4 linked regions of the Homo sapiens genome follow. The protein of the gene in region 4 interacts with the protein of the main gene of each other region in a pairwise test. Each region holds a gene or a part of one and is shown on either strand. Other genes may lie near its edges. The genes, in order: GIMAP1, TMEM120B, MFSD6 and SLC18A1.

Evidence for each region.
Region 1: the proteins of SLC18A1 (region 4) and GIMAP1 interact in binary tests that used the Homo sapiens proteins (3 or more experiments, as listed by UniProt).
Region 2: the proteins of SLC18A1 (region 4) and TMEM120B interact in binary tests that used the Homo sapiens proteins (3 or more experiments, as listed by UniProt).
Region 3: the proteins of SLC18A1 (region 4) and MFSD6 interact in binary tests that used the Homo sapiens proteins (3 or more experiments, as listed by UniProt).

What each region holds. Positions count from the first base shown.
Region 1 is NC_000007.14:150,719,433-150,724,804, reverse strand, and holds the end of GIMAP1 (GTPase IMAP family member 1), read right to left. Parts: intron 4,758-5,372; coding exon 3,880-4,757; 3' UTR 521-3,879; downstream 1-520. Other genes in the region: GIMAP1-GIMAP5 protein, read right to left, coding at 4,399-4,757. UniProt on the Homo sapiens protein: May regulate lymphocyte survival. Required for normal levels of mature T-lymphocytes and mature B-cells.
Region 2 is NC_000012.12:121,778,661-121,782,677, reverse strand, and holds the end of TMEM120B (transmembrane protein 120B), read right to left. Parts: 3' UTR 3,181-4,017; coding exon of another isoform or gene 3,016-3,180; 3' UTR 1,807-3,015; coding exon of another isoform or gene 1,672-1,806; 3' UTR 1,596-1,671; coding exon of another isoform or gene 1,486-1,595; 3' UTR 610-1,485; downstream 1-609. Other genes in the region: rho-related GTP-binding protein RhoF, read left to right, coding at 1,486-1,595, 1,672-1,806, 3,016-3,180. UniProt on the Homo sapiens protein: Necessary for efficient adipogenesis. Does not show ion channel activity.
Region 3 is NC_000002.12:190,404,350-190,411,360, reverse strand, and holds the start of MFSD6 (major facilitator superfamily domain-containing protein 6), read right to left. Parts: upstream 3,007-7,011; 5' UTR 2,858-3,006; exon of another isoform or gene 2,302-2,857; intron 1-2,301.
Region 4 is NC_000008.11:20,158,937-20,166,136, forward strand, and holds part of SLC18A1 (chromaffin granule amine transporter), read right to left. Parts: intron 6,172-7,200; coding exon 6,111-6,171; intron 6,029-6,110; coding exon 5,933-6,028; intron 1-5,932.

The sequences.
Region 1 (5,372 bases), on a different chromosome or scaffold from region 4:
GCCTACTGGAGACAAATTTTGATAATTCAGGCTTAAAACCTGGAGTTGATCCTTCTGCAGAACTGGAAGTCAGAAAGTCTTTCTTTCCTTTTTATTTCTTGAGATTGAGATGTCTATCCTTGGTGTGTGTGTGTGTGTGTGTGTGCGCGCGCGCACGTTTGCATGCATGCAAGTGTGTGTGTTTAATTTTTGAGCAGTGGTATGCAATTCTCTTCAGTGTTCATCATGATACATTCTGCTAGCATGTAGTAGAAAAGATAGTCTAGGAGTCTTCAGACGTATGAAGTCAAGAGGATATGCACAATATAACACCATTTTGAAAGTAAAAAAAGTCCAAGTGCCTAAACTTAGTGGTATGTAAAGAGAATTATGAGGAGGGAAAGAAAATATAAAAATATGAGAAGAATTAGGCAAAGAATGTGATTGAAAGTATAAAAATAAGACTCAAACCAATAATTATAACTAAACATCCAGTATATGGAGTGATAACTTCTTAAAGAAATAAAGAGGAGGGGACAAATTTGTAAGCATCTCAATAAAGTATTTTATTGGCAGAATAAGCAAGAACCGAATCTAGTTGCCTAAGAAGAGGCCAACATTGCCACTGTTAGATTAAGAATCATGGGGGAAAAATGAGTGTTGAGCCATAGTCTAGCTATAGCTTCCCCAAGAATTTACAGAAATTCTCTTCTGGGGTACTGAATCCATAGGTGAATCTCTGGAAGGAGCACTGGCATTTGCTAGGGCTACTGTGCGGGCTGGAACTGAATATTGATTGTGTAAGAATATGTAAGAATGTACTCTGCCTGAAATCTTTTGCTCTAAAAGTTCATCATGGCCAACACTAGCTTTCAGAAATAAGCCAGATACAAGTCTTTTTGTGTAGAACAAAAGCTGATCCAGGTACCAGGGCATAGAAATATGAACAGAAACATTATCAGCACAGGACCCATACATTTTTATCTTCCAAGAGATAAAAGGAGAGGAGAGGAAGGGGGACAATTGAAATGGATATATATTTACACAATTTTTGAGGTATTGGACAGTATTTTTACTGTGTCTGGTTAAAATTAGCAAGCAAGTTTTTCCAACAGGAGGCAGTGCTGTTTTATGCTGTAATTTAAGTATAAAATTGATTTGTGCTATCAAATCACTCAAATTACATAAGTGAGGTCACAAGGCCTAACCTTGAGCTATGGGGGAAAAAGCAACCTTTAAGCCACAGCCTAAAAAAAGACTTTACCGAAGGGAATGGTGAATGCCAACTGTTCTGTAGCAGGAGAAAAGGATAAAATAAGCTGAAAGGGGTGGAAATACAGTAATTTGGGGGACCCTGTGCTTGAAGGGAAGTAAATTTCCTTAGGGCAGGAGAATATCATTAATACAATGACATGCTTGCGCGAAAGAATTTTCTGTTATCTATGGTAGAAAATTTAGAAAATGGTCAAAAGTCTGGTAGCTAGAAATCTAATATTAAAAAGGTACAGGAAAGTCAACTTTACAATTCATTTTCCAAACATTTGTTGATCCCACTTTCTATGCCAGGCACTGGGTTGTATAACGGGGATACAAAGATGAAAAAAAAAAGATCATAATCAAAGTATCTGAAAAAGAAAACCACTAAAGAAATGTTATTGAATGTAAAGGAAAACTGTAACTTCTTTAATAATACATTATTCAAATTCAAAGATGATAGCACATTTTGAGATTCAGATTGGTAATGTATCTTTGATTACACTTTGCAAATGTATTTGACAATTAACCATATACTACTACTTTTTATTACTGAGGTAGGAGGCAGGACTAGACTCTGGAGGTGGGGATTGGGCTCCAGACCACACTGAAGACAAGCTGAAAGGGAAGAGGTGAAAGAGTCTCTCCATAAAACACACTCACCAGTGCCACGTCAGGTTACCATTGCTAAGGCAACAGCTGGAAGTTTTGGCTCCTTTCCATAGCAACAATCCCACGACCTGGAAGTTACGACCTTTTTTCTAGAAATTTTGGCATAATCCACCCCTAAATTTGCATATAGTTGAAAGTGGGTATAAATGTGATTGCAGTACTGCTTCCGAGCTGCTACTCTGGGCACACTGCCTATTGGGAGCCCTGCTCCACAAAGCAGCTTTGTTGCTGCTGTACATTAAACCACTTTGATAAAAGTTGTTGTCTAACACCAGCAGCAGCACTGGCTCGTGCGCAAGTGACCGTGGACGACCACGCTGTGCCCTCCCTGCTGTCCCCTCTGGTCATCAAAGGATCCTTCCCTGGCTCGAGGCCCCTGCCTGGGCCCAGAAAGGCTGCTGAGGAAGCGAAAGGCAGGAATTAAACATGGGTTTTTCTTGAGCCACGCTTCAAAAAGTCCAACTCCCTGCAGCGGTCACCAAGGCCCTCAGGACCCCTCACCATAGCCTGCCCGAAGCCCGCAACCCACCTGGAACCTCCTGCAGTCCTTAGCCTGAGCTGGCAATTGTGCGCATGCTTGCAGACCCCTTCTTCCCAACGTGTGCTGGGGAAGACCCTAGGGCGCCTGCGCACACTCCCTCCTCCTCTTCCTCTTGAATAGAGCTAATGTGAATACCTGCTTCCCATGTCTCCATGACCTCACTAGAGGCTGGCTGATTTAAAGACAATGAGTTCCCTTAAAGGGTTCTCATTATGCTCAGAAATAGAAATAAGGAAATCCTATTGTTTGATTCGCACAACCAGTCAGCGGCAAATTTTCTAATCACGTGGCATTCGAGAACCTTCCTGGACAGGCCCATCCCGAAAAAACCGGATGCTTTCGCCTCACAGCATAGGATGCTCAGGTGTCTGCAGTCTCAGCCTATGCACCTGGTGCTCTGCCTCTTCTCCATAACCAGAGAGGAGCTCGAGATACAGACTGTGTGTGTGTGTGTGTGTGTGTGTGTGTGTGATAAAAATATGAATAACCATATAGAAGATATTATATGTTATTTTCCCAATATCCTACTCTTTTTCTTTTTCTTTTCTTTTCTTTTTTTTTTTTTGAGACAGATTCTTGCTTTGTCACCCAGCCTGGAGTGCAGTGGCACGATCTCGGCTCACTGCATCAAGTGATTCTCCCGCCTCAGCCTCCTGAATGGCTGGGATTACAGGCGAGTGCTATCACGCCTGGCTAATTTTTGTATTTTTAGTAGAGATGGGGTTTCGCCATGTTGGTCAGGCTGGTCTCGAACTCCTGACCTCAGGTGATCCACCTGCCTCGACCTCCCAAAGTGTTGGGATTACAGGCGTGAGCCACCTCGCCCGGCCCTTACTTCATTTTGGAATGCCATGAACCATAATATGTTCTAGAAAAGTGGAAACTGTTATTTTCCACTTTGTAACAGTACAGTTACATTCATCTTTTTGGTAGTAAATCATTGTACTATAAACTGATGTCTCAGAAGTAACATTCACGTGTGTAACCCCCACATTTCTTTTATTGATGCTAAAAGTCTACAAGGATCACAAAGGAACCTATCTACCCATGTATAAGAACTAGAAAATTATCAAGGAGGGGCAGTCTAAATTTTTTAAAAAGCTCGAAAATAATGGCACTTGTTTTCCCTGTGCCATGCGTTTGTCCCCACTACAAGCTACTTGACATTAGACTACCAAAACTACCAAAGGAAGTTATTGTTAGACGAATTTATTTTAAAACTCTGCATACACATCATTTAAAATGAGTTAAAAACTTAAAAAGTGAACTCTGAGCTTTGGCAAAGTTGCAAAGGTGATGCAGCAAAGTTTTCTGTGTCATTAAAACTATGCCTGAAACTACAGGATTCCTTCCGTTGGAATGAAGTTTTCCCTTCAGCTCCAAGAATTCAGCCTCCCTTAACCAAGTTGCCTTCAGTTTTAGGACCTGCGCTGTCAGTCAGGCCCGACCTCCGCAACGGCCTCCGACCACCGCCTGTGGAGCAGCACCCAGAACAGGAGCGCGCCCCCCAGCAGCAGGGCCAGGCCCAGCCTCCAGCTCCTGGGGGACTTCAGCCACTTCCACAGCCGGGCCGACAGCCAGGCGCCCCATGGCCTCCTCTGCACCCTGGCTGCCACGCGCTCCGCCACCCGCCGGAGCCGCTCCTCAGGGCCTGCCCAGCGCAGCACCTGCGCCAGCTCATACACCTCGTTGGAGTAATGGGCGCCCTTGTGCTCCAGCACCAAGCCCTCGACCATCCCCAGCAGCTGCTCCACCTGGGCTTCCTGCTCCCGGCCGGTGGCCCGGTTATCAAAGGCACAGACCCGGCCCCCGCACTCGGCCACCAGCTCGCGCAAGGCCCGGTTCTCTGTGTTGCTCACGTAATCGTGCAGGGAGCCCCCGGCCAGGTCCTCCTTCCTGGTGAAGACGATGACCATCCATTTTAGGACGTCCTCCCCGAACATGTCCCTCACCTGCCTCACCGCCTGCTGGTCCTGGGCGGTGAACCGACCCAACTGGGTCACCAGGAGCAGCGCGTGGGGTCCGGGGGCCGAGAGCAGGTAGCAGTGACCTCTCTCCTCACAGCCAGGATCTGTCTTGGACACTTGGGAGCTGAAAATGTCCGGAGTGTCCACGACTTCCACGTGGCACTTGTCCCACCTGCGGCTGCCCGTGGTGCAGGCCCTGGTCACAGACGTGGCCCCCAGCCTGGAGAAGAACCGTCTCTGGCCCAGGATGCTGTTCCCAGTGGCGCTCTTCCCGGCCCCTGTTCTCCCAACAAGGATGAGCCTCCGCGTGGACTCCTGCCGGGACTGAGCGTTCTCTTCTAAACCTGTGAGACCAAGTGTTATAATCTTACTTAAGTTTAACCAACTTCCCCTTGGGAACTGGAATCTTCTTGCCTTTAGCATAAGTGGTTAAGAATAGAGATTTGAACGCCTGGGCGTTCATTTCCACCTTTTCCTTTTGTATTTGGGTTGTCTGCCTGCACCAGTAGATGCTCCAACTACAGTTGATTATCATAGAAATGCTTCTTTATCAGTCCAGCCCAATAGTTCATCTGACATTTCTGGTCATCCACACACATGCAGACATATTTATTTCATATTTGAAAATTTCGATGGACTCTGAAATATTCTCCCAGAGACCATCCCCAGAGACAGGCAGTGGGGGCAATACTGCCTGGTAGTGAAGAGCTGTGTGGAGTCCCAGATACCCTGGTTTGAATCACAGCCCCACCACGTGCTGGTTGTGTAACCTTGGGGAAGCTGCATAATCTAAGTATTAAGCCTCTTCGGCAAAAGTGGGAGCGATAATAGGGGCCTGTTTCTCAGAGGCCTGTTGAGGGGGTGAAATAAGCCCTCTTTCCTTCTTCTCTCTTTCTCTCCCTCTTTCTCTCCTTCCTCTCTTATCTCTCTCTTAAACTGGCTGCCTAAAAAGAATATAT
Region 2 (4,017 bases), on a different chromosome or scaffold from region 4:
GTGGGGAGAGGGTGGCCATGCCCCATCACCAGCAAGGGGTTAGGAGCAGACATGGCCTGGTGGTACTCCGTGGAGAGGCCACTTGTCCTGAGAGGTGTCTGGCAGAGAAGGAACGGGGGGCAGGCTGGTGCCACCCAGCACCTGCAACAGCTGCGGACAGGGCAGGGGGATTCCTGGGCCTCCACGTTCCTTGTTCAGTGGAAGGAAGTGGAGGGGCGGGGGGCTGGTCACCAATGAGCCTGAAAAGCTCTCAGTTCTCACTGTGGGGATTTTAAAAAAATACCGGGGCAGGATGACTAAGTGCAGTGTAGAACCCTGGGCTGGGCTGGCTCCTCAACGGGGAAAAAAATAAAGGACAATATTGGTGAAATGGTCAAAATCTGACTATGGTCTGTGGATCAGATTAGAATGCAGAGTCCATGCGGTTTCTGGGGGCTTGGGGCAGGGGAGAGAACGCCCTTGTTCTCAGCAGATAGGCGCTGAGCTAAGGGGTGAAGAGGCAGATGTCTACAGTTACCGTGCCCTGACAGGGAGAAACAGAAGTGTCTGTCTCCAGATAAAGTCAGAGGGGCCAATGCAAACAGGTGGTGAATCACAGTCAGAGAGCTCTTCATACTCGTGTTGCAATTTTACTGTAAGTTTGAAACTGTCAATACAAAAAGTTACAAAGAATTGTTTATAAAGAAGAAGAAGAAAAAAGCAAACCCAACCAAGCTCAAGCCTAGATCCGTATTTGGATTCAGCTCGTCTCGGGGCGGAGCCAGGCGTCACGGCCTCCGGATTAAAGTATCCCCCCAGGGAGTGTGCTCTGTGAATCTGGGTGGGGAGGGCGCTCGGTGCTGTTCCCAGCAACCCACCACCCTCCTCCTAGTGCTTGCAAGAATAGGCAGGGAACTCAGCTGACTGCATCAGAACCTGAGAAGCTGGAGGCTGAAGCCAGACACCAGCCTCTCAGGACTTGGGGACACTATGAGCCCACTCAGCCCCACAGGTCTGAATCTTTGGGGAGGGGAGGGTTCCAGTCTGCACTCTGCCCTTGACCATCAGGGCAGGGGGATCACACTGGCTATCGGCATCATCTCTAGCAGTTTCTCCAGCCCCAGCCCTAGAATCAGGCCAAGCTCTCAGCACTGCGTGGGTTTGATCTTGAGGATTCTTTACCACCATCCAGGACTGGGGGGCTGCCGCTCATGGGTTTTGTTGTTAAGAGACAGGGTCTCGCTCTGTCACCCAGGCTGGAGTGCAGTGGCATGATCACGGCTCACTGTAGCCTTGACCTCCTGGGCTCAAGCGATCCTCCGGCCTCAGCCTCCCGAGTAGCTGCGACCACAGGCCTGTGCCAGCACTCCTGGCTTGCTGCCCATTGTATAGATGAGGAAATTGAGGCCCTAAGGCAGGGTCACTTGCCTGGCCCCTTCCCCTTCACCCGTCAGAGTCCAGACAGGGAGGGGACGTCCCCTGACCCCCGCTGCTCTGTGCTTTCAGGGCAAGAAGACTATGACCGGCTGCGGCCCCTGTCCTACCAGAACACCCACCTCGTGCTCATCTGCTATGACGTCATGAATCCCACCAGCTACGACAACGTCCTCATCAAGGTGAGGCCGGCCTCCTGGGTGGTGGCCCCACATCTGGGCCCGGCCGCACCCCTGATCCCGCCTCCTCCCTCCACAGTGGTTCCCTGAGGTCACGCATTTCTGCCGCGGGATCCCCATGGTGCTCATCGGCTGCAAGACAGACCTGAGGAAGGACAAGGAGCAGCTGCGGAAGCTCCGGGCCGCCCAGCTGGAGCCCATCACCTACATGCAGGTGGGCCGGGGCCAAGACCCTGGGGCACAGCCGTGGCTGTGAAGCCTCCCGGACCTTTGGCCTCTGCAACTGGGGTGCCTTAGTGGCCTTTCAGGGAGCTGAGGGAAGCAAGATTCTAAGAATAATTTTTAACTATTAGTATTGATGGCCTGTGGACCTGAGCACTTTACACGACTACTCCCAATCCTTAGGACTCGGAGGCAGGCGCTGTTCACATCCCCCAGTTTACAGGGGGAGAAACTGAGGCCCAGAGAGGTTAAGCAGCTTGCCCAGGGCCACACAGCTAGCGAGAAGTGGAGCCAGGATCTGGTCCCATCCACTGCAATCCAAAGTCTGTGCTATGAGCCGCCGTCCTGTCGTGTCCTGTCTGCCTTGTTTGAAAGTAGGCGTCCCCTTCACGGGCCAATTGACCGTGCAACTCTTTGGGTGAGGCATGGGGGAATAAACAGAATAAAAGGAATGCAAAGGCAAAAAGAAACTTTCACAAGAAATAACCATTAATAAGGGCAAATCCGGCCGGGCATAGTGGCTCACGCCTGTAATCCCAGCACTTTGGGAGGCCGAGGCGGGCGAATCACCTGAGGTTGGGAGTTTGAGACCAGCCTGACCAACATGAGAGAAACCCCATCTCTACTAAAAATACAACATTAGCCGGGCATGGTGGCGCATGCCTGTAATCCCAGCTACTCGGGAGGCTGAGGCAGGAGAATCGCTTGAACCTGGGTGGCAGAGGTTGTGATGAACCAAGATCGCGCCATTGCACTCCAGCCTGGGTAACAAGAGCAAAACTCCATCTCAAAAATAAATAAATAAAAGGGCAAATTAATTTGCCTAAATGGTACTTTCAGAGAAGGGAGAGAGGTGGCTGGAAGTCCTTTCTGTCTTGAGGCCTCCAACTCTTCTCACAGGCCTGGGAGACACCTGGGGGAACCAACCCCGGGTCTCAGGATTCAGCCCCTCCCTGCCCGGAGCTGGAGAGAGGCCAGGGTGGGGGCCTGGACAGGGCTTCTTCCAACCTGCGGGCTGCACTGCCCTGGCCCTCCATTCCACCCACACACTGTGAGGGGCAGCCAGGATGGAGGAGACAGACAGGCCCAAACCAAGGCCTCCATCCCTGCAGAGTCCTCAGAGCCAGTCCCAAACCCACCAGGTGGTGCTAGGAGACCTCCAGGGGCCCCTCACCTAATGCTGGCTCCTCCCCCCACCCAGGGCCTGAGCGCCTGCGAACAGATCCGAGCTGCTCTCTACCTGGAATGTTCCGCCAAGTTTCGGGAGAATGTGGAGGACGTCTTCCGGGAGGCCGCCAAGGTGGCTCTCAGCGCTCTGAAGAAGGCGCAACGGCAGAAGAAGCGCCGGCTCTGCCTGCTGCTCTGACCCAGGGCAGACAGACCTCACGACAGCACTGACAGGGCCCGGGGGCCCAGGTGCCGATTGCACCAGGGAGGCTGCCCCATCCCGACCCTCCAGCTCATGGTGTCTGGGGCCTGCGGCTAGACTCTTGGAACATTCTGGAACTCTCTCCTTTCCTGGCTGGGGCTCTGACCACAAACTCCCCTCCAGGCTGCCCCTGGGACATGGTGGTGATGTGGGTGCAGGAGCCAGTGTCTGTTGTCGGGACTCGCAAGTGCCCTCATCACAGCCACCCCCACCACGAGTGTCTCCCCAGTGCAGACTCAAGTTATGCTTGAAATGAAAAAGTCTATCTGGTAGTGGGTAAACGTAGACCTGGCACTGTTCCACGCGGGCGCCCCAAGCCTGCCACTCCTGTGTCCCTGCCTCCCTGGGCTCCCGAGATAGGCACCACTGTATCCTCCAGCTCCTTCCTTCCTTCCCCCAGGAACACGGAGGCCACCGAGGGGGCTGGGCCTATCAGGAGGACACAGGCTGCAGCCTGGCACCCACCCCTCCCATCTCCACCCCACATGGAAGACTTGTCTTCAACTTGGCCACTGTCTTTGCAGAGCTGGGCACATGTGCCCAGGGGGCAGAAAAAATGGCTTCTCAGTTGTTAAAAGTATACCCTGGACCACCCATCTGACCATCTCCTTAAGGTTTCACCCAAAGCCCCCAGTGTCAGAGACTTGGGATGGGAAGAACAGTCGGCTCCCAGTGTGGTCATGAGCAAGTTTTCTGTGGACTGTTCCCCCCACTGTGGTAGGACAGGACTGGCCCACTTAGTCCTCAAGCTCCCAACCTGCTGTCCCTCAAGCC
Region 3 (7,011 bases), on a different chromosome or scaffold from region 4:
TGATGAAACCCCGTCTCTACTAAAAAAATAAAAATTAGCTGAGCCTGGTGGCATGTGCCTGTAATCCCAGCTACTCGGGAGGCTGAGGCAGGAGAATAGTTTGAACCCAGGAGGCAGAGGTTGCAGTAGGCCGAGATCGAGCCACTGCACTCCAGCCTGGTGACAGAGCGAGACTCTGTCTGAAAAAAAAAAAAAAAAACTACTGTCAACAGTTTGGGGACAAAAAGGCGTATGTGTGCCTGTATGCAGGTTTAAACAAATGTATATAAATTTCTTCTGAAGCTAGTTTTTTTTTTTCTTTTTTTTGAGATAGAGTCTCGCTCTGTTGCCCAGGCTGGAGTGCAGTGGCGCGATCTCGGCTCACTGCAACCTCCACCTCCCGGATTCAAGCAATTCTCTACCTCAGCCCCCTGAGTAGCTGGGATTCCAGGCGCCCGCCACCACGCTCAGCTAATTTTTGTATTTTTATTACAGGTGGGATTTCACCATCTTGGCCAGGCTGGTCTTGAACTCCTGACTTCGTGATCCACCTGCCTCGGCCTCCCAAAGTGCTGGGATTACAGGCATGAGCCACCTTGCCCAGCCATTTTTTTCATTTAATATACAGCATCTTGATTTTTCAGCCAATGTGCAAAATAGCTAGCAGACACACATTTTTTGCATTTCTTCCTTTCCCTATAATGAGATTGCCAAATTAAGATTTGCTGTCAAAGGAAGTAAAACAAAGAAACCTGTCAGCTTCATACTGCCTTCAATCTACAACTGGTGAGGACAAAAGGGTAAACATACACACATTAATATACATACGTAATAAATATATAAATTATCCTACATGGCTAAATGTTAACATAAGTAATACATGTACATTGAAATCAAGTTAATTTTCAAAGGCACGAAGCTAAGGAAGACATCTGCGTAGGTGGAGAGACTTAATAGGTTCTGATTAGGGAGGGACACCATGTGGAAATTTCCTGGGCTTTGGAGCCAGAAACATGAGGTCAAATTTAACTCTACCTCTTACTGATTATGTGGTTTGTGTAAGTTGCTTAACCCTTCTGAGCTTCCTTTTTGTCATGCACAGAACTAGGGGAAAGATTTATCTTACAGAGATTGAGATACTAAATGTTTACAATGGTGTCTTGAACATAATAAGTACCCAAAAAAATGCCTTAATACTGTTAATAGTCCAGACACTATATATGATGGAATTGGTGATCCAATACTCACACCACCAAATACCTGTGAACTCTGCTTTTTGTCTTTGTGTTTTATTTGCCTTCACGCTTTTATATTTATTTGTATAGAGATGGAAAGTGCCTTAGAAATAAACTGCTGTAAACATGAAGGACACACAACTACTTAGTAGCTTTAATGCATTATTGAAGTGATGTTCTCTCCTCCTGTTTCCCCAGAGCATCCTGCACTGGGCTCATTAACAATGTCCCATCCTTCCCCTAAGCAATCCTAAATTTTACTTACACCTCGTGATAAATACAAGCCATCTGACTATCACTAAACAGCTGACCATATCCTGCACCTCTGCTAGCAGCTTGACGTGTCAAAAGCCAAGCTTCCCAAAGAGGAGGATCCTATCCTTTTACTTAACAAGGCTAAAACAGATGCATACACTTTTAGCTGGCTAGTGCCCACATCTTGGGGAAAGGACCTACCAAGTACACATCTCCTTTTATTACATATTTTAGTCAACTGTATGTCCACCCACCCTTCACATTCATCTATACTTAAGAGGTTAGATTTCTAGAAAATCATGGACTTCTAGAAGGATTAGGGGAAATTTTGGCCACTATAATATCCAACCATCCTCTTTTCCATGTGAGAAAACTGGGGCTCAGGAAGATGTGACATGCCCAAGCACACACATCTATTTAAATACCAGTTGGGATTAGAACCCCAACTCTTTAAGTCTTTTGCACACTAATAAGCAAGGTATTATATGTTCCAGTAGTTCTGTGAGGTGCTTATTCAATCTTTTTGGGATGAAAAGAAACGTCCGTGGTTGCGAATGCATAAAGGTAATTAACCCACCTGTCTGTCCATGTGGGGATGGGATTAACGAGGGGGAAAGTTGCGTTTGTATTTTTCCACCATCTTACCTAAATTTGCAGGAAAATTGCTCTATGGGCAATAAATATGACCCAGAAAGACTAGCAACCCCCAGTAGTATCTCAAAAGGGCTCCAGAGACATGTTAGACCAAGTGGAAGTAAAGCACGAGGTGGGGGATGTCTGCTAGGATGGTGGCTGGCAGAGCAGAGGTATTTTTTTTTCCGTATTTATTAACCTGGGAGGGCAGACGTTGTCAATTTCCTCCTCCTGCCACACAAGTGGCCGCGTCCTTGTCACTGGGGCTGTGTGGAGGTTCTCACCTCCTCCTTTTTCCCAGGGATGTTTATGGCGAGGGCGCGGGTCGGCCCGGGCGGAGGAGGACCCGGGCATCGGCGCTCACCCTCCGTCCCCACCCGCGGCAGCAGCTGTGGGCGCCCGGCGAGGGCTCCCTGGGCAGCGCCTTTGTTTTCCCGACTCCAGTTACGTTTGCGGAAGTGCTGCCAGCACGGGGCGCGCTGGGGGCGCAGGCGGCAGCCTCCCCCAGCACCCCACAAAGATGACACCCGACACGGAAGCCGGGGGAGGGAGGGAGGGAGGGAGCGGCGGGCGAGCGAGGCCCGAGCGGAGACAGCGGCGCACGCTGGGCTCCGAGCCCCGGCCCCGAAGCCCCTTTCCCGGCAGCAGGTGTGCGCGGCTGAGGTGCCTACCCGCCCTCCGGCTGGGCCCGTGCGGGGCGGGGGAGGCCAGGGCGGGTCTGCGAGCCCCTTCTCCGCAAGCCGGGCCCGACTCACCTGCTGCGGCGGCGGCAGCGCTCAGCTGCGCGGGGCGCGGGGAGCCCTGTCCCCGGAGCACGGGGCGGCGGCTCGGGGCGCCGGGGCGGCGGCTGTCGGGGCAGCGCGCACCATCCCGGGCTGCTCGCGCGCTCCTCCGGGGCTGCGACGGGCTGGGCGGGGCGCGGCGAGGCGAGGCGAGGGATGCGGACCGGGTGGGGCCACGGAGGACGGAGGCGGAGGGCCCAGCGCTCCCGCCGGCGCGACCTTCTCTCCCGCTGCGGCTCCTCCTCCTCCCCGGCCCCGGCCTCACAGTCGCCGCCGCCGGTCACTACCGGCTGGACCCGTTTCAGGGCCGGGCGCTGAGGACCGGCCGCCAGGTGCAGCGCTCCGCCTCCTGCGGCGGCGGCGGATGCGTCGACTGCCCGCTCCCGGCCTCCAGCCCGCCCCGGCGGCCCGGAGGGACACCTGAACCCAGCCGGGCCCGGGGAGCACGCTGAGGAGGCGAAAGCACTGGGCGAGGCTCCATCCCTACCGCACCCTCCACCCCCCCGCACCCCCAAGCGACTTCCGCTGAGCCCCCAGGCAATGAGTGCGGGCCAGGAAATGTGGGGGAAAATGTACTAACATCCCTTATTCCTTGAGCGCCTTTTAAGTGGCACACACAATGCTAATGCTGTCAGTGCGTTATCTCCGCGTCTGTCCCAGGTTGACCCGGGAGGGAGGAGCCGGCGGGGTGCGGGAGACAAACGATCTGTGAGTTTCGGGGCTCACCAAGAAGGGGGAACACTGAGACGAAGGCACCCTTTTTCAGGAAGCTGCTACTGGCATCTTGCTGAAAAGCCAACCGTGTGTGTCGCACTAAGAATATAATTAAAGTTGTATTTCTAGTTAAACACGCAGAGAGTTGGGGGAGAGTGGAGTATTCACTTGGCAAGTATGTCTGTGTGCCTGTGATGGGCTTTGGGGGATGCCACATCCTGTTCTTAAGGAGTTTATTGTCTTGTTCTGGCAACAACGACAAGAGTGACAATGGTAGCTAACGGCAACAACGACAAGAGTGACAATGGTAGCTAACGCTTATAAACATCGATTATGTACGGGGCACTGTGTAGGTACTCTTTGAGCCTTATAACCCTATAGGTGTAGGAAACGTTATTCCCATTTTACAACTGAGGAAAGCCGAGGCTGAAAGTTAATGTGACCCATCCAAAGTTACTAAACAGCGAAAGGGAAAGCAGGCTTCTTTTGTCTCCAGGCTTTAAGCTCTTAACCGTGAAATCATACTGGTAAGAATTTGATAGGCCCTGAAGTTTCTGAATTTTGAGTCCCTCTTTAGGAAGAATAAAACAATTACAAATACGAAGTTTCTAGGGCCCCTTCCTGAGCTTATGAAGGGTCTCTGAAGCTTAAACTATAGTAGCCTCATGCTAAATCCACTTTCAATATTGACGTAGATATTCAATCATTTCTTTCTCCAGGCATTTCTTTCTCCTGTCAGGAACACGAGACACTGGTCCCCTCCTTGAAACTCTTCCCTTCTCTTCTTTTGGTGCTCCGTAAGTGTTGGATTTTCCTCCTTGAAACTCTCCCCTCCTCTGCCTTCTGTGACCCACAAGTCTTGGGTTTTCCTCTTCCTCTCTGGCCACTCCCCTTTGCTCCACTTGAGTTTTAGTTTTCCTTGGGTTTTGTTCTAGGCTTTCCTTTCTTCTGATTCTGTTTGTTTCTGCGAATTCTCTCACTCCTTGGCTTCAATCACAGAATATTTGAGGGTGCTCCAAAAGCCCTCTCTCGGGGTCAGCTTTTCTCCTGAGGGCCAGATCCTTATGGCCAGTTGTCCAGTGGGATGTGTCACAGGCACCCCAACCTCACTAAGTGCCACGTCAATGTTTCTTTACCTTCTGTTCTTCCCCTACTCGTTTTTTTTTTTTAAGATGGAGTCTCACTCTGTCGCCCAGGCCGGATTGCAGTGGCGTGATCTCAGCTCACTGCAACCTCTGCCTCCCGGGTTCAAGTGATTCTCCTACCTCAGCCTCCTGAATAGCTGGGATTACAGGCATGTGCCACCATGTCTGGCTAATTTTTGTATTTTTAGTAGAGATGGGGTCTCACCGTGTTGGCCAAGCTGGTCTCAAACTCCTGACCTCAAATGATCCCCCCACTTCAGCCTCCCAAAGTACTGGGATTACAGGTGTGAGCCACTGCACCCGGCCCCTCATTCACTCTTGCTTCTGGGTTCCCAGACTCTGGGGTCCCAAACAGCCATCCACCCAGTTGTACAAGGCCCTTCTTCTCAATGCTCCTTTCACCCTTATACCCATGCCCAGTGTATTAGTTACCTATTGCTGCTGTAACAAGTTATCGTAAACTTTGTGGATTAAAACACACATTTATTATCTTACGATTCTGGAGGTCAAGAGTCCAAAATGGGTTTTAGTGAACTAAAACCAAGGTGACTACAAGGCTGTATTCTTTCTGTAGGCTGTAGAGAATAACCCATTTCTTTTACCTTTTCCACTTCTAGGGGCTGCTCACATACTTTGGCTCATGGACCCTTCCTCCATCTTCAAAGCACACCACTCTAACCTCAGCCACAATCCTCACATTGCCTTTTCTGACTCTGACCCTCATTACATTGGGTTCACCTTCATCATCTAGCGTAATCTCCTCCTTTCAAGAATCTTAATCCCATCATCAAAGTCCCTTTTACCATGAAGCATATTCACAGGCTCCTGGGATTGAGACATGGACATCTACAGCGGGCCATGACTCTGTCTATGACATCCAGTCAGATGCCAAACTCTTGATTCTACCTTTTCAAATATCTCTAGCACCTGTCCTCTTCTCTCCATCCCTGTGCTATCCTAATCTCTGTTATCTCTCCTTTGCCTGCAAAATTTCTCTGGTCTCTCTGCCTCAAAATGTTCTCTCATCCAATCAACTTTTCACTTTGCCACCAAAGTAATCTGTTTTCTTTTCTTTTCTTTTCGACAGGATCTTGCTCTGTCACTCAGGCTGGAGTGCAGTGGTGTGATCATAGCTTACTGTAACCTCGAACTCCTGGGCTCAAGGGATCCTCACACCTCAGCCTCCCAGGTAGCTGGGACTACAGGTGCATACCACCATACCCAGCCAATTTTTAATTTTTTTTGTACAGGTGGAGTCTCACTATGTTTTAGGAGAGGAGCAATGTTGGCTGGTTGCACAGCTAGGAGGTACAATACAATGTGAAGGGTGCCTCATGGTGTTGCACAATCCTATGAGACAGCAAAGAAATTACATGGTAAGGTGTTTGTAAAGATTCTTTTGGTGTTGGGCGTAGTGGCTCATGCGTGTAATCCCAACACTTTGGGAGGCCAAGGTGGGCGAATCACTTGAGCCCAGGAGTTTGAGACTAACCTGGGCAACATGGCAAACCTCATCTCTCAAAAAGTACAAAGATTAGCCAGGTGTGGTGGCATGCCTATAGTCCCAGCTACTAGGGAGGCTAAGGTAGGAAGATTGACAGAGCCCGAGAGGTCAATCTCCCAACCTTAGCAGTGAGCCATGATTACACCTCTGTACCCCAACCTGGGTGACAGAGTGAGACCCTGTCTCAAAGAAAAAAAAAAAAAAGTAACTGTAACCAGTAGCAAGGAGAAAGGTTAACAGTGGCATGGACCACAGTGGTAGTGGCTGGGATGGAGAGAAACAGATAGATTTGAGAGTTTGGGGAAGTATATGAGCATACTTGGTGATATGTTGCATGTGGGAGGCAAGGGAAAGGAGGTGTTAAGAATGACTCACAGGTTTCTGGCTTGAGCAACTAGGGAAGATTGTGATAACCTTTACTGAGAGGGAGGAGACTGTGGGAGGAGCAGGCTGGAAGGAAAAAAGGAAGAATTCACATTTGACTCAGTGAGTTTGAGATGCTTGTGAGCCTTGCAGGTGGAGCTGTGAAGTAGGCAATTAAACTTGAGTCCACAGCCCAGAAGAAAGGGCTGGATTTGGCAGTCATCAGTATTGAGGTACTATTTACAGTCATTGGACTGAAGGGGATTACTCAGGAAGAGAATAGACTCAGAGAGCCCAGAGAAGGGCCAACATTTACCAGTTGGTATAGGAGAGAAAACCAGGAAGGATCAGTCAGAAGTAGAAGGCAATTCAGGAGGATGTTGTCACTGAAGACTATAGAA
Region 4 (7,200 bases):
GCTCGATGGAACCTTGGCCAAAATCCTACTAACTGTTGGATGTACCTCCCGCTGCACTTTAGGCTATACATTTCAATCTCTGTATCTTAACCTCCTGGTTAAGTTTGTCTCTTCCAGAATTGAAGCTGTAAAACTATAAATGGTTCTTCAAATGGAGCCCCAGATGCAGTCTGTGACTAAGATCTACTACAGACCCCTGGACTGGCCTGCTAGCCCATGCTCCAATGTTGATGACATCGAAAGCACCCCTCTCAAGGAACTTTCAACTGCATGACCCCTACTATGCCCCAGTTCGGCAGGAAGCAGTTAGAGCGGTCATCAGCCAACCTCCCCAACAGCACTTGGGTTTTCCTGTTGAGAGGGGGTACTAACAGACAGGACTAGCTGGATTTCCTAGGCCAATTAAGAATTCCTAAGCCTAGCTGGGGAAGGTGACCACACCCACCTTTAAACAAGGGGCTAGTAACTCAGCTCACACCTGACCAATCACATAGTAAAGAGAGCTCACTAAAATACCAATTAGGCTAAAAGCAGGAGGTAAAGAAATAATCAAATAATCTATCACCTGAGAGCACAGAGGGAGGGACAATGATCGGGATATAAACCCCAGGCATTCCAGCCAGCAGTGGCAATTCCCTTTGGGCCGCCTCCCATTATATGGTAGCTCTGTTTTCACTCTATTAAATCTTGCAGCTGCCAAAAAAAAAAAAAAAAAAAAAAAAAAAAAGAAAGAAAAAGAAAAGAAAAGAAATCTCTGAAATATGGGGATAATCATAATTTCTACCAGACAGGCCAGTTGTGAGGTTTAAACAAAATAGTGCATATCAAACATTTTGCATCGTGCCTGTCGCAGAGTAAGGGCCCTACAAGCACTGGTCTTGATTATTATCATCATAACTCGTGAGTGGCATGTCAGGACTTGAGTCCAGGCCATCTCACTCTAACTCCAAGTGTTTCCACTATGCCACACCCCCAGCGTGGTAGCACAGATGGCTCTGGTATAAGGAACTGTTTGAGATCAGCAGAGTGAGTTTGTCTGGATCTCACCAGCCCTTTTAATCCCTCTCTATACCTAGAAAAAAACAGTGCAGGCTAACAAAAAATACCATGGCAATTACAATTAAATTAAAAGTCAACAATCAACCATTTATTGGCTGACAACTTGTTTGCTTTTAATATTCTCTTCTATGGAGTAGAAGTAAGCACACCTTAGTGTATTTGTGTAGGCTATCCTGGACAGGTGGCAATCTGTTGCAAACTGTACCCATTCGTTTATATTTAATTGCTTAAAAAAATTAAAACTACTCAATTGTTTATCTAGTATGTGGAAGTAAGCACCTCTAGGAAGCCTACAGCCTCCTAGATACACCTCCTTGACATCATTTTAAATGGTGTAAAATTTCCTTAATTAGATTTTTCTCAATCCACGTTGCTCGTTCTTTAGGACCTGATTATAGCTTACATTTTAGCAGTATTTTGTGCAAAATAGGTGCTCCAGAATATGTATTTATAGATACATGACCCCTGCATGAAAAACATCTGTTTTTCACAGTGAATCTCTAAGGGGTGAGGGATTACACATTTTGTGACTATCAAAATGGTTTAAAGTAAAATTGTACAAATAATTTTTTATTTACTGATAGTATCCTGTATTCCACGCACTGGGCTAATCCATTTAGGATTCCAGATGAAAATGACTCTGAAAAATACCTACTTTTTTACAAATTAAAAAACTGAAGTTGGTCTTAGTCTGTTTTATTTTTGCTGCTGTAACATATTACCACAGATTGGGTAATTCTTAAAGAAAAAAGATGTATTTGGATCACAATGCTGGAAGCTGGGAATCGCAAGTGCATGGCACCAGCATCTGCTTGGCCATCTGGTGAGGGACTTCTTGTTGGGTCATAATACAGCCGAAGGGTATCACATGGAGAAAGGGCATTTGAGAGAGAAAAGAAAAAGGGGCCAAACTCCCCCCTTTTGTGACTAACCCACTCCTATGATAATTGCTTTAATCTATTCATAAAGGTGGTGCCCCTAGGACTTTATCACCTACTAAAGGTTCCACTTCTCAACACTGTTGCATTGGGGATTAAGTTTCCAACACACAAATTTTGGAGGACATAGCATTCTACCCCCGGCCTCCAAAATTCATGTCCTTGTCACAATGCAAAATGCATTCAATCCATCCCAATAGTTTCAGAAGTCTTAAGTGGTTCCAGTGTAAACTCAAAAGTCCAAAATCCAGAGTCTTGTCTAAATTAGTTATGGGTGAGATTCAAGGTACGATTAATCCTGAGGCAAATTCCCTCCAGCTGTGAGCGTGTGAAATCAAAACAAATTATACTTGGCCCTTTGTATTTGCAGGTTTCACATCCTTGGATTCAACTAATCGCAGATCAAAAATATATGAGGAAAAAAAATAAAAATAACAGTACAAGATAAAAATAATACAAAAAAGAAAATAATACAGTATAACAACTATTTATATAGCATTTCCATTGCATTAGGTGTTACAAGTCATTGAGAAATGATTATAGTACATGGAAGTACGTGTGTAGATTATATGCAAATACGATGCCATTCTATGTAAGGGACTTGAACATCCTTTGAGTTTGGTATCCGTGAGGAGTCCTAGAACCACTCTCCTATGCACACCAAGGGATAATTTACCTACTTTCAAAAATAATGGTGGAACAAAGATAGAACAGGCATTCTTATTTCAAAAGGAAGCAACAGGGAAGAAGAAAGGGGTAACAGGTCCCACGAAAGTCCAAAGCCCAAAACAGAAAACAATATTATGTCTTAAAGCTGGAGAATAATTGCCTTTGACTCCATGTCCAAAATCCTGGGCACACTGGAGTGGAGTTTGGACCCCTAAGGCATCAGGCAGCCCCATGTCTGTGGTCTTTCCGGGCTGAGTCTACCCAGCAGCAATCATGGGTTGGAGTCTTGTGCTTGCAGGCCACCATGCTGGTGCCCCTACAGTTCCGTGATCTTGGAAGTGGCTGTGCATGGCATCTTTTGAAATTTAGGTGGAAGAAGTCATGCACCCATAGCTCTTGCATTCTGCGCACGTGCAAAATTTGCACCACATAGACACCACCAAGGCTTACCACTTGCACCCTCCAGAGTGGGAGGCCAGGCCACATCTGGGCCCACTTGAGCCATGGCTGGCACAGTTGAGGGGCACTGCACTGAAACGCAGAGAGCAGAGTCCCAAGGTGGTCCTGGGCAGTGAGCCCATGGAGGGTGTCCCAGGCTTATTCCCAAACCATTCTGCCCTCCTACATCTCTGGGCCAGTAATGGGAAGCACAGCTTCGAAGGTCTCTAAAATGCCTTTGGGTCTTTCTCCCACAGTCTTAATAAGTGGTGCCTGGCTCACTTTTATCCACACTAATCACTTTAGGTTGCTTGGCCACAGTCTTGGTGTGCTCTCCTAAAGATGCCTTTTCTTTCTTTCCAAGGCCAGGCAGCAAATTTTCCAAGTCTTTCTGTTTTGTTTCTCTTTTAACCATAAATTTCACCTTTAAATCATTTCTTTGCTTTCACATGTCACTATATATGCAGTTAAAACAGCCACAAAGCAGCCTGAAGCTTTGCTGCTTAGATATTTCTTCTGCCAGATATCCTAGTTTATTGCCTCTAAGTTCTTCATTCCATGAAGTCCTAGGTTATGGATACAAGTCTGCCAAGTTTTTTGTAACTGTATAACAAGGATGGCCTTTACTCTAGTGTCCAATACCTTGTTCCTCATTTCTATCTGAGACCTCGTCAGAATGACCTTCACTGTCCATATTTCTATCAACATTCTGGTCACAACCTCTTAACCAATGTCTAAAAAGATTCAGACTTTCTCTATAGCTCTCCTCTTCTTCTGAGCCCTCACCAGAATCACCCTTAATGCCTTAACCACAGCAATACAGGCTCTTTCTAGCCTGCTCCTCCAAATTATTGCAGCCTCTACCAATTTTCCAGTTCCAAAGCTGCTTCCATATTTTCAAGTATTTGTTATAGCAGCAGCCCGGTTTCTCATTACCCATTTTCTGTCTTAGTCCATTTTCTGCTGCTATAATATAACAGAATACCAGAGTGCATGATTTATCAATGAAAGAGATTTATTTGGCTCAGGGTTCTGGAGGTTAAGAAGTTCAAAGGCAAGCCTCTAGTGTCTGTTTGGCCACCTGGGGAGTGCCTGGTTGCTGGATCATAACATGGCCAAAGGGGGTCACATGGAGAGAGAGCACACATGAGAGAGATGTAAAGGGAGCTGAACTCCCCTTTTATTATGACAAACTCACTCCCATGATAATGGCCTTAATCCATTCATGAGGGTGCTCCCATGATCTCATCATCTCTCAAAGGTCCCACTTCTCAAGACTGTTGCACTGGGGATTCAATTTGCAACATATAAATTTTGGGGGACACATTCACACCATATCAGAGGTCAAAGAGGTTAAATAACTTATCCGAGGTCACAATCAGTAAGTGACGTGGTCAGCATTCAAACCCAGGTGGACCTGGGCTATTTCCTCCCCTTGGTGATGCTACCTAGTATATGGTGGGCCACATAGCAAGCACTCAGAGGCAGACTACACATTACTTTCAAAAGCATGGACTCCTTTGGCTCCCAACACCTTTGAGGGATGCTCTTCATGTACAGCAGCGATTTTCTAGGTGTGATCACTGACCAGCTATATTAGCATCACCTGCAGACTTACTAGGGATGAAAACTTGTTTTGACTAAATTGCCTACTGTCTCCCAGCAATCAGAGTTTTAACAAGCTCTCTAGGTGATTCTGATGTAGTTGTTGGACAACCTTTGATGTCAGACTTTACAGACCAGATAGCATTGAGAAAGCTGTAAAAGATGGTGGCAACTGAGTGACTGGTAACTGAGTAATTGGTAACTGGCAACTGAGAATGGTCCCTAGGCTGCTGGGGAGGAGCTGCTCTGTGTTGTAGCTGCTCACTAGTATCGAGACCCTGAGTGGTCAGAGCCTTAGGGCAGGCGATGAATTATCTGCACTGAATACCGACTAACTCAATTAATCGTCATGGTCAAAAGCACTTGCAACCCATAAAAATTCAATTTGGCACTAGGAGTGCAGCTGGGAGTCTTGCTTAGAATTGCCCCCCCAAAATTAGATTTAGTGCTTTTTATTGCATGCTGAACTATATCATGTTCTTATCAGCTTCCCCTCTGGCCCCGTAAGCCTCTCCTCCCTGCAGTGATGGAGCAATTTGCACGTAGCCTTCCCTGTCCTCTTTCCTCAGGGTTCCTGGGAAGGGCTAGATCCTCCTCTCCAAGCTCCTCTCTAAGTCGCTGCATGAACAAAGGAAGCTGGAACCCTCTCTCCTGGGCCCATAGCTTTTCCTAAGTGAGTGCTACATACACCCCTTTTTAGAGGTAAAAAAGATAACCAAAGGGTAGTCTTGAGGATGAGGAGCTGAAGGGAGGAGAATGTGGATGGTAATGGTGCACATTAATATTGTACAGGGTACAAAGCATTTTCACCTCATATGTCATTTATTCATCCAATTTCTCTTGAACTAGATAGTATTTTGATGCTCATTTTAGCAATGAGAAAAGTGATGCTCAGAGGGTTTAAGGCATCTGCACAAGTTTTCACAGAAAATCAAAGGAGCTGAAACCAAAACCTGAATCTTTGGACTGGAAATCATTAATCATCCTACTACACAGCTAGGTATGTGACCTCTCCATAGCCCCTTTCATCCTCTCTCACCCTCCCCTTTCTCAGACTGCTTCTCTGAGGGACCACACACCCTCTTGGGCTTGATTCATGGGTGTGGACGTGGGAGGTCATTCTACAAAGGAAGCATGTTGTCCCTGTGTGACATTGAACGAAAGGACTCATGGCACCCACCTCCTCCTGCCAGGCCCTGAGCGGGGGTGCTGAGGTCACTTACCCAGCTGCCACTTGGGGGAGCACATGGTCTGCATCATCCAGATGGGCAGTGTGGGCTCCAGGATGGCCACCCCCATGTTGGCAAAGCAGATGGACCCTGGGGAGACTGTTCTGTGAGCAGCCGTGGCTGCTTGAAGCCCAGACACTCCCCGCCCAATGGGAGGTCATCGCCAGCTTACCTGCAGCCACCAGGATGTAAGGGTCTTTGAGAAGCATAAAGAGGGGAGTCCCCTTGGCACTCTGAGAACATGGATAACAAAAAATGTCCATTTGTACAGTGCATACATCTCTCCTATTTTCACAGAATCTGAGAAAGTACAATTATGGGCTTAGAGACCATCTACAGTATCTCCTTTACTGCAGAGACCAGGAACCCCAGTACAGGGAGAGAAAGTGACTTGTCTGATGCCACAGAGGAAGCTGGAGGCAGGACCCCTCCTGTGTGAAAGGTAGGCACTGTAATAGTCACAGATAGAGAAGCAACATATTCCAGCCATGGTTCCTGCGTTCACGTGACCATCAACAAGGTCAGAGTGGATTGGTAGCAAGGTCAGGGTTGGACAATAGATGTCTGGACTCCTGGTTTCCACTAGATCTCCCTGGTACTAATATTTGTCCTGGGAGAACCACAGGCAGAGCACCGAATCCCAAAAGCAAGCACAGAAGCCATAACTCAGAAAGCCTCTCAAGCTTTCTGAATTCTTCATTCTGATCATTTTGAGCCACACTGAACTAAGGTAGAAGAAGCAGGGTTAAAATACAGCCTAAACATCCAGGACCCACTCTCGTCAGGACACACTCTCATCTAAACTTGGTCGCCCCACCCTCTTTCCAAGCATCCCAGCAGTGCCTCAGCCATCATTATTGCCTTTGCCTAAACTACACGTTCTGAGCTTCTCCATAGTTCCATGTTCTACCCACTCTTTAAAGTCAAGCTTAAATGGCTCCTTCTTTTCTAGAGAGCTCCCTGACTCAGTAGCTGGGGCTTCTCTCTCTTCCAGACATCCTGAACACTATGTCCTAATCCTTCATGGTGTTTACTACTTTCTATCTTGTAATAGATTGGATCATTTTGGTATGATAACCCTCTCTGCACACACACAATAGTGGATTGATAAATTTAGAGATCCTAAAACTAAAGAGATCATTCGCTTACCCAATTATTATTCGAAGTAAAGAAACTGATGTAAATCATTAAAATATACATTTAAAAGTACAATAAACCCTTTGACCCAACAGTCCCACTTCTAGGAATTGACTCTAAAGATT